Regions from separate parts of the Homo sapiens genome. Here region 1 is linked to region 2. Evidence: fine-mapped expression QTL. A gene starts in region 2. The other region holds a variant in brackets. All regions are shown on one strand. Distances are from middle to middle.

Region 1 (5,375 bases), 32 kb before region 2:
AAAAAAAATCATTTGTCTCTCTGTCCAGGGATTTAAAAAAATTAAAAATAACAAAGATCACAAACCTTAGGAAGATTTAAAGGAATCTTATAGTTAACATGCAGCCTTAGCTGCATGTTTCTTGTGTCTTAATAACTGAACACATTTAGACTTCTTGCATTTCCGAGTACTCTAAGGAAATCATTGAAAAGCATATTCTTCTTCATCTAGGTTTGTCCTACGTCGGGACCCTCCTGGGCTAGCGCGCTTTAAGGTGATGGCCAGAAGGTGGCGCTCTGCATCAGTTCATGGGGGCGGCCTGACTCCGGGGAAGGCAAACACACAAACCAAGGTGCCTGCTTTAAATCCGCAAAGTAAAGGTCCTCTTAACCACTTGTCATAAAACACCCTGAGACACCCGTCTTGGAAAATCGAAGTGTCAAGCTCAGCATCTTTGCCACATTTCAAACTAGGTAATTACCTTCTCTCCCAAAGGGAATCTGCTTTATGTATTTGTGTCCTTTCTAGGTTACAAGTTTCCCAAAGGCAATGATCTTGCCTTCCACTCACTCCATACAATGCTGAAGTGAAATGCATATTGTACAATAACAATTTAATTATTCTACATTCCTCTGAGCTACATGATGACCTGTTACATAATTGCCAGTAATATAGAAATGTGCCTGCCTCATACAAACCCTTGCAATACACAGAAGTTTTTATTTGACCTAAGAGTAAATTGCTTATTTGCTTCTCCTTTAGAAAAGAAAAAGCAGAGCATTTCCCCGCCATCCCAAATTATAAGTCGTAATCAAATAAACAACACTGTATTTCAGTCTGTCATTTTTATTAAGCCTGCAGAGCTGTTTTTTTTTCTACACACGACAAATACTTTGATATAATCTAGGATAATAAAATAGTTGAACAACTTTTTAAGATTTATATTTGTATAGAAACAATCTGTGGAACTCCTCCCCTCAAAATGAAGGTGTCTAAAAACAGTGATTCATCAGCATTGCTTTAAATAATTGTTTGGTTAAAAGTTGTGGTTTCCATTCTCAACCGAAATGCGTCTCCATGCAGTTTTCCTTGGGTCCAAAGCTTAAGGCCTTGGGAAGGGGGCCAAGAAAAAAAGAATGGCCACTCTCCTTTCTGTCCTTCCCTTGTGTGGAGGACAGTGATTGAAACAGGGGAGTTAAAAAGCCAGGAAGAAAAGAAATCAATTGCACATCTCTAGTTCGCAAGCGTCAAAGTCACAACAAGTCTGTACACAACAACTCTCTATCTGTAGATATGAAATTCCATCATGATAGCACAGCGCCTGCTTGCCCCTAAATGTTCCTTTCTTCTGCTAATCATGTCAGTTACTATGGATGGGCTGTGGCCATAAGTTCTCCCTCAAGGGCTGGTCCTTCTGTCACCTTGAAGTGTCAGCCCCTGAATTATGCCACTTGGATGCTATGTCTTGATACCCAATAAAGGTCTACCATCCCCTAAGAAATCCCTTACCCCACCCTCAAACCCCCAAAGTGCCTAAGAGTGAAGACGAAGATGCCATGGAGACGGCGTCTTCAGTGAACACCTCCCCAAAGATGCCCGGGGACTCGGGCCTATATCATCCCATTGATCTTAGTCCACTCGTAGATGTCCTGTTCGCACACTATGTCAGAGTTGATGAGGAGGTATCTGTCACCTACACAGAAATGCTTCTGACAGGCGGCGCATTTGAAACATTCCAGGTGATACACTTTGTCTTTCACCCGCATTGTCATCTCATAGGCACGAATCCGCTTGTCACAGGATGCGCAGAGACCGTCTTGCCCAAAAAGCCTGGGGCAAAAGAAAGAAAAGCTAAGAAGACAGTGAAAGGGACAATCCTGGAAGACAGGGCTCGGGGATGAGCCCTAGAAAGGAGGCCGAACTTTCAGGATGTCAGGAAGCCAGGGAAGGTCGGCTCCAGAAGGAGGGCCGGCTAGTGCAGTCTTCACCAGCAGGCAGAGGGAACTCAGATGAAACTGGCATTTGGATCTGGCATAACTCCTCCCTTTTCTGAGCCCTCTCCTTGTCTGCAGCAACCGCTCATCATTCCCCTAGGCTGCCCCCTGGCTCCTCCTCTGTGGGCAAGGCTCTCAGCTGATGTGATCTATCATAAGGAGTTAGGCAAGTATTACCTGTCCCCTCCCAGGGGAACCCTCATTTCAGAAGAGCAGCTGGAGAGAGACCCTAGGGGCCCCTTTGAGAGGGTACTGACCAGGAATGCAATAAAACGGGCATTCTTCTGAGGCTCCCAAACTCTATCATGTCAACAGCCACTGATTCTACCCATGGGGAGAGCTGGCCTTGAATACCTCCATAAGCTGCAAAGCACATCTCCCCCTGATTATTCGCTGGGGCCCCAGCTGCTGGGAGACAGGGAGTTCCACAGAAAACACGCGGTGCAGCTAATCGTGCCTCTGAGATATGGAGGACCAACAGCATCTCTCCACCATGAAGGGAGGATCTTAATTCATGGCCCTCGCTGCCCACTGGCATGAATCAAAAGGGAAACTTCTTTTCTGACATTTAAATCAAGACTCTCCCAAGCCTCAGTTGATCAGTCACTTATTTCAGGCAGTATTCAGTGTCAAGGTGGGAGACAGAACATGGCAGGGCTCAGTGCAGTGGTTCTCAAAGTGTTGGTCCTGGGACCAGCGACATCAGCACTGCCTGGGAACCTGACAGAAATACAAATTCTCAGGCTGGGCGCAGTGGCTCACACCTGTAATCCCAACACTTTGGGAGGCTGAGGCAGGCAAATCACTTGAGCTCACAAGTTCGAGACCACCCTGGGCAACATGGTGAAACTGTGTCTTTACAAAAAATACAAAAATTAGCCGGGTGCGGTGGTGCATGCCTCTAGTCTCAGCTATTAATACTTGGGAGGCTGAGGTGGGAGGATGGCTTTAGCCCGGGAGGTGGAGGTTGCAGTGAGCCGAGATCATGCCACTGCACTCCAGCCTGGGCCACAGAGCCATACCTTGACTCAAAAGAAAAGCAAAAACTAAACAAACAAACAAAAAAACAAATTCTCAGCCCTCCTCCTTCCCTACCCAACTGAGACACCCTGGGGAGAAGGCCCAGCAGTCTGTGCGTTAATGAACACTTCCGGGGGACTGGTTGCAGGCTGACATTTGAGAA[T/G]CAACAGCAAAAGTGCAGTAACACAAGTACCGGAAGCAGAGAAGACCCAGCTTCAATGTCCCGGACCAGCCCTGAGTGACCCTGGAGAGACCTCTGATTCTCTGAGCCTCAGTGAAATGGCAGCCATCATAGGCTCCACCTCACTCAGCTGTTAAAACAACCAAACGAAGCATGTCAGGGCACCCATGGTCAAGGGCTAAGCCAACGCTGGTTATGTTTTAACACATCTTGGGTGTATTCCCAGCTGTGCCAGTCTTGCTGCAGGAAGTAATTTTCACTCGTGGCTGAAAACATAGCATGTTAGCAGGTGGTTTCTACATAAAACCTTTAGGACAGTTTTAGGTGAATGCTTGCTCTTATTGGAAGTTCTGGTTGATTTCAGGATATCAGAGAATCAGTGGGTACATTCTGAGAGGTTGTAGGGGACCTAAGGGCAGTTGACACATTTTGCAATATTTGGGCGAGATTAATGGAATTGACAAGAGGTGGTCTGTGAGTGGAGAGCTCATTGTTCGGGCCAGGGCCAGCTAATTTGCCTCTGAATCCTGCTTTCCATTTGAAGATCTCTGAGTGTTTTCAAAGCACCGCCTGGGAGCAAACTCATTACTGGGGGGAGAACATTTTATCCCAACGTAGCAGATGGTGGAGCTGCAGGTAACCGCCACATTGGAGGTCACAGAGTGGAAAGACAGTTCTGGTTTCCTGACTGCTCTGTAAGTTAAGTTTGGGCCTGAGCAAGGATGAACGACTGAGAAAACAGTGTGCATGGAATGAATCCAACTGCCTGGGGTGTGCGATCCTTAAGGAAGGAGGGAGCTTATTAAAGGGAAGTCAGGGGGTAAATTACAACCCACATCAGGCAGCTATGAAGGGAAGGACAAAGGACGAATATGTGGGAGACAAGTTCAGGTCCCAGCATGACCTCTAACTTGCCAGGTGACCTGAGCAAATGGAGTCCCCTGTACAGGCTTCTGTGACTTAAGCCATAAAGCAAGGGAACTGAAAAAGAAGGTCTCTGTAGCCCCTTCCAGCTCTGGGATTCGGAGATTCTAATATTAGTAAAAAATAAGCCGGGACTTGACACCTAACTTGAGCATTAACCTCTGGCACCAAGAATTGGTATCTTAGGCTGGATATCCCAGAAGCAGCCCCTGAGGCAAGGATTGATGTGCCAGTGATTTATGAATGAGGCATTCTCAGGAAAAACCTGGAAGGCAGCAGGGGAGGCTGGAGGGAAGGGGAGGAAGCCAAGCCAAGTTGTATCCTCAGGCAAAGTCCCTCAGAGGGGAGGGACCCTGGAATATAAGTTATGCCTGGCTCCAGGCAAGGCTGCGGGGCTTGGTACTCCCACCATGTCTGTCACTGGTTAAGGTCCGTTGGGGGTCTAGTTGGGGCAGGCATACTTCTGGCTCTAACAGATTCAGGTGCTGGCTGTTAAAAGCAAAACCACTGCCATCACCGCCACCCCACCACTCCCAGCACACAAGAATTAGTGAAAAGGGATCCAAGGAGATCTGGCTCAGCACAGACATGAACAGCTGCTCTTGGGTTCCCAACAATACAACACAGCAGCAGAGTTGAGGTTCTGCATGGGGGTCTCATGAATGTTTGAAGCTAAATGTCGGAAAAGAACTGTAACAGGCAACTCAGCCATTGGAAATCCTCACGGGGACAAGTTATCCTAGGGGTGAAGAACTCAAACACATTAGAGGGCCCGTTCAGTTACTCCTCCAACTTGCCTTGTTAAAAGATCCTGCCAGATATACTAAGAATGCCAGTAAACAAGACCTTGGCTAAAGGACCATCCCTGACGCAAAAGACAATTTTTCTCCTCTGTCAAGAGATGTCCCATCTTAAGCTCTCTGCTGCCCATTTTAATAACAATAATATAAATATTAAAGAATGGCTGGAAATGCCTGCACTAATGCAGAGTTAATTAACATGTTGCCTAGGAATGTGGCAGGGAGAAGAATTATTTCATGTCACCAAGACACAAGTTAATTAACATTGGGTTCTCCCAGACTGTTTTTTTTTTCCTCTCCTTTTTGAAAATGGAAAGGATTAACAAGCCCAGGCAGCACTGGTTTTATTCCTGAATGTTATATAAAACGGTAGAGATAGGGAGAAGCTGGGGCTCTTCTGACCTTACTCTATCTGCACTTCAGTTAATAAGATTCAAATGATTTGACAGGGATGGAGTCAAGGGTCCGATGGGAATC
Region 2 (5,375 bases):
TGTTTATCGTAGCACTAGTCACAATAGCAAAGATGTGGAATCAACCTAAGTGTCCATCAATGGATGATTGGATTTAAAACTGTGGTGTATATATATGCAATGGAATATTATTCAGCCATAAAAAAGAATGAAATCATGTCTCTCGCAGCCACATGGGTAGAACTGGAAGCTGTTATCTTAAGTTAAAAAAGTCAGACACTGAAAGACAAATATCACACTGTTCACTCATAAGTGGGAGCTAAATAATGTGAACACATGGCATTAGGGTATGGAATAATATACACTGGAGACTCAGAAGGGTGGGGGGAGGATGATGAGAAATTAATTAATAGGTACAATGTGGTGATATCAATCTGGTGATAGATATCAATAGATATCAATCTGGTGATAGATACCAATAGATATCAATCTGGTGATAGATACCTTAGAAGCCCTGACTTCAAGACTATGCAATTTACGCTTGTCACAAAATTGTACTTGTTCCCCATAAATTTATGTAAGTTTTTTTGTTTTTGTTTTTGTTTTTATGAGATGGAGTTTCTCGTCACCCAGGCTGGAGTGCAATAGTGCCATCTTGGCTCACTGCAACCTCCGCCTCCCGGGTTCAAGCAATTCTCCTCTCTCAGCCTCCCGAGTAGCTGGGATTACAGGGATGAGCCACCACGCGTGGCTAATTTTCATATTTTTAGTAGAGACAGGGTTTCACCATGTTGCCCAAGCTGGTCTTGAACTGCTGACCTCAGGCGATCTGCCTGCCTTGGCCTCCCAAAGTGCTAAGATTACAGGCGTTAGCCAATGTGCCCGGCCTGTAAGTTTTTTAAAAACCTAGAGGTGAGTAATTATAATAAGTGATATTATTATTATTATTACTCTTAACAACAATGACAATGATGACTGATGAGGGCTAAGTACCAGCTACTATCCAAGCACTTCCATGATTTATTTCTATTATTTCTCACAATGACCCTATGGGTACCCCTATATTACAAATGAGAAAACTGAGGCTGCCATCTTTCTAAGGTCTAAAGTGATTTTCTGGGAGCACAAACAAGAGCTTAATTAATTTTAACAGATAAAGACAGAAAAGGCTTCACAGAAGATTCACCTTTTCAGGGCAACCTAAAGAAGTATGGGTTGGTTTTCTTTAAGCTGAAACATTACGGCAAGAACCTGGAGTAATATCTGCTTCAAAGGGGAGTTATGCAAAGTCAACAAGAGAAGACGTGTAAAACCCAAGCACAGTACCTGGCACAAAGTAGATGCTCCCAAATCTTTGTTCCCCTTCATTGATCCTCTGTGATGGAAGGAACTTGTAGCCACTTTCCTCATCCGCCTTGGTTTTTCAAAAACACCCTTTGAAGTTATAACCTCCTTGGGAGCCAAGGCTTCTCTGAAGCACCCCATTACAATCTTTGCCCTCAACTCAGAACTGGAATGTGTTTGAAAATGCTAACAAGGGCAGCAGCCCCACCTCTTCGTCATTGCCTAAGGTTGTTAGGCAAACACACACACACACACACACACACACACACACACACACACACATGCACACACACTCACACAGTTGCTGGGGAGATCATGGTAAACACAAGCCTCTCTTTTGGATCAGAATAATTGAGTGGTCTCCCTTTGTGGCCAGTGTACAGGAACAAATTAGATGGGTAAATTAGCAGTTCCCGAAGACATTAGCAACCAGCGGCTCACACAGCAAGCGCCTGACTCACCGTGGGGCCTCTCCAAGTCACAGCCTATGAATAGATGCTCTTCCTCCCTCCGAAAGAGAAGCCAGAGTGCCCGGAACACCACAGGGGAAGCTTGAAGACTTGTACCCCTTTGGAGTCTTTTTATTTTAAAAGACCAATTTAATCACCACTTCTTCTGGCTCCTTGAAGATGAAAAAAGTTCCCTTGCAATCGTCCATTCATCAGAGAATTAATGAAGCCTACTCACCAGCAGATGATGTAATCCTGGTGGCTTCCCCCATCAGATCTAGGCTGCCTGCCCCACGGATACCTTCTGGGCTAATTGCCTGCTTTGCACCTGTTCCTTCTCGGGAGGCCCTGGCACCCTAGCACCTGGTGCCTGTGCCATCTCCCCTCTCTGCCAGGACACCCAGAGGCCCTTGTGAATAGCAAAGCCCACTTAACGGCTGAGGGCAGGTGGGGGTATTTCCTTCTCAATTCTGCTCAAGGCCCGTTGCTGTTCTTTGAGGATGTTGCAAATCCAGGGTTTGGAGGGCTGGGCCTCTTGGTGGCCTGGTTGTCTATCTGATAGGGCGGAGCCTTCACCCTTGCAGCGAGCTCTCTCACACCAGATGTGCTCTGCGTGGAATCCTAGGCCATCAGGGGATTCCTTAGCAAGCCCTGCAGGACCCAAATCCTAACTCAGACCCTCATCCTCCTACTCAGAATGTGGAGACTTGTGATCCTCAGTTTGGACGAATTCCAAGAGACCTTCCAATTCCCAGAGGCCATCTTTGGTTCTGTTCACACATAGCTCCCTCTCCCTCCTAGGCCTTCTCCCTTTGAATTTCTCCCCTACACCATCAGCCTGTATTTACTTCTCCTTCTTGCTTAATGCATGACTATATTATCCCAGTTAAGGGGGTCTGCAGGTTTTATCAGAAAGTTCAGAGGCTCACATGACCTGGATTGGAACTTGGCTCAGCCACTGACTAGCCAGACAAACTCAAATAACGTACACAGCTTCTCAGCACCTCACCCCCTCATTCATAAAAAACAGGGACAATGGTACCCACTTTGCAGGGTTGTTGAGTGGATTAAATTAAACAACACAAGGAAAGAGCTTTCCTAAGTTCCAATGCTATGTAACACACACAGTATTGTCTTACCCAGCAATAATTTCGGTGCACGGATCTGATCATCTCTTAATTAAATATTGAATTCTCCTAACACGGTTCTTTTTTTGAACCCCTCAGGGTCTGAACAGTTATAAGTGCACAGAAGTTGGGTCTTTATGAGCTGAATAAAAGGAGACTCCGGCTGTCTTCTCTTTTGTCCTTACCATAAAGCTCTTGTCAGCTGCTCTCCTGGCCCTGCCTCTGACCCTGGGCTTTGGGGCCACTATAGGCTCTCCTTTCCTTGTCCCCCTCTGAGTCCTGAAGTCCTGGTTTGCAATCTGCTGTTGCAGTTCTCTGGAATGGCTGCTTCCCCATGCGCCCCTGTCTGTCAGCTACCTCCCCCGCATGCATGTCTGTCTGCTGGGCAAGGCCCAATTCCGAGGTGACAGCTCACCGGGCCTCACCCACAAGTCTCTTCCAAGCATTAGCAGCCCACCCCAGTCCAAAGATATCTTTTATAGCTGATCTCTGGTGGCACCTCCTACCTTCCAATTAGGAGCCTGTCAACACCCAGGCCATCACTCTTCCTGCAGTGTCTGACAACACACACGCCTGCCGCGGCTGCGCCGGGAGAGTCAAGCAAAATTGTTTCCATGGTGGTGGTGGTGGCCTGAGCACAAGAGTTGAAATCTAGGTGAATCTGAATCTAGTTCTGCCTTCTCACTTTGCAAGGAGGTGTCTTATTTCTCTTTGAATTGGCAGCACCAAGCATCATGCCTGGCACACAGTAGGTACTCATAAATAAACACGTGTAAATCAAAAAGGCCGAAGATACATTGCTAGCTTGCAGACTCCCTTTCTCAATGTCTAATGATATCCAGTTCATTTCTTTCTCTTACATGTGCAAATCAGAAAGTTAGCTCATAACTCATCTGTTGTGACTTTTTCTTTCCTTTACTTTTGTGGTTGAAAATAAATTTACCCCAGAAAAGAGAGAGAGAAGGTGCCTGATTCCTTTGTCCTCCCTCTTCGATCCTCTCTAAATCCCTGGGTCATGGTAAGACTCTCTGAAATTCAGGGCCATTTTCAGACACTGGAGCCAATGAGGGAAGTATGACACAATCGAACATTTTTCTTATCTGGCAGTGTGGTCTGGTGGTTAGCATACGGGCTCTGCCAGTCGGAAGTCTGCCTTTCTATTTCTGGGGCTTAGGGGAAACCATGAAGCAACAGTCTTAGCAGCCCACTCACTCTTGCTTTCTCTTTCTCAATGTAAAATTGAGTTCACATTGGACCTGCTTACCCACAGCAGTCACCAGCTCAACCAGGGAAGGAAACGCACCACCCTGCTAGCCCTGCTTCAGCCTTGGGTGAGGCTGTGAAGGCTGGTGGTAAGCCGATGAAAGATAATCCAAAGAAATGAAAGTGAGGGTGATGAGTAGGAGAGCGGTTTGGGGCTGAGGGTACGAAGATGCCATGATGACTGACTTAACCACATCAAACTAAACCATGTCTCCTACTACAATTCACCAGCCTGAAATTGTGAGAGGATCTCGGGCGCGGAGATTTCGCTGGCTAAGGGGCACCCTGTGTGCCTACAAGAGGAGGTGGGAGGGAAGTTAACCTTGCGTTGTCCTCCAGGGCGCAAATCCAAAAGTGGGAAAAAGGGGAAGTTCTTTGATCTGAAGTAGAAAAAGTCGGGGAGAGAAGGAGAAACACCCAGAATGGCAACAAATTTGATGAAATCAGAGGGACAAAAAGAAGAGAAGGGTATTAAGATCAGATCTTCTGAAGGGCAGAGAACTATAATGACACAGTTGCTTTATTGCTGGACCCAGGACAGTTTATACAGCAGTTCGGAAAGGCCTCTTGAGGGGTTATCTGTGTCAGCCCAGCCTAGCATCGATAGAAACATGAATCTCTGGGAAATTATCTTGTGCCTCAGACTTCAAAGTACATAGAGATTTGAACAGCCTTGAAGTCGATAGGAAAACTTTCAGCATTTGATCAGTCGAATTATCCCACCATAACTCTGCAAGTTCTTGAGCCACATCTAGAAAGAACAAGGCAAGTTAGGGAAAAATCATCATTTAACATGTCATTTCTTTCCTCATTTCTACCCAAATGATCTTTAGGTCTCAATTCCTGCTCCTGTTGTCGTTTTTGCAACCAGGAAGCTGTGAGACCTTTGGGTTATCTTTAGAGTGAGACCCTCTAGAAGGTTTTAGGCCGAGCCTTGGGCTGGGTGATGAGATGGCATTGACTGTGGGCTGACTATTGCTTTGGAGTTGTGAGAATTTCCTCTCTGCAAAGGAGGTTCAAATACTATGTTTTCCCGGCTAATTGTTCATTATGCAGAGTGTCAGACTATGGTCAGAATATAGTGTTTTACAGGATCCCAGTGTTAATATCACAGAAAAGTCCAGCTGACATTATGTGATGTAGGGTGCTTTAAAAGAAAAAAAAAAAAAAACAGTTCCTCTGCAGGGGGCAACACTAAGAGAAGGATACTAGCTTTTTTTTTTGTTTTGTTTTGACAGAGTCTTGTTCCTGTCACCCAGGCTGGAGTGCAGCA

What was found.
Region 1: its variant is fine-mapped to the expression of LMO2 in whole blood (TOPMed, PIP above 0.99).

What each region holds. Positions count from the first base shown.
Region 1 is chr11:33,857,767-33,863,141 of GRCh38, forward strand. It overlaps LMO2 (LIM domain only 2), which reads right to left. Exons shown (of 6, transcript NM_005574.4): 6 at 810-1,809. The coding sequence ends at 1,590. Among named protein-coding and RNA genes, the nearest start is that of LMO2, 32 kb to the right of the region's middle. RefSeq lists a silencer at 213-386. The variant T/G (reference allele first, on the strand shown) is at 3,157.
Region 2 is chr11:33,889,845-33,895,219 of GRCh38, forward strand. It overlaps LMO2 (LIM domain only 2), which reads right to left and starts at 2,232. Exons shown (of 6, transcript NM_005574.4): 1 at 1,951-2,232. It overlaps LOC105376621 (a long non-coding RNA gene), which reads left to right and starts at 4,102. Exons shown (of 3, transcript XR_931176.3): 1 at 4,102-4,191. RefSeq lists enhancers at 1,688-1,797, 4,175-4,344.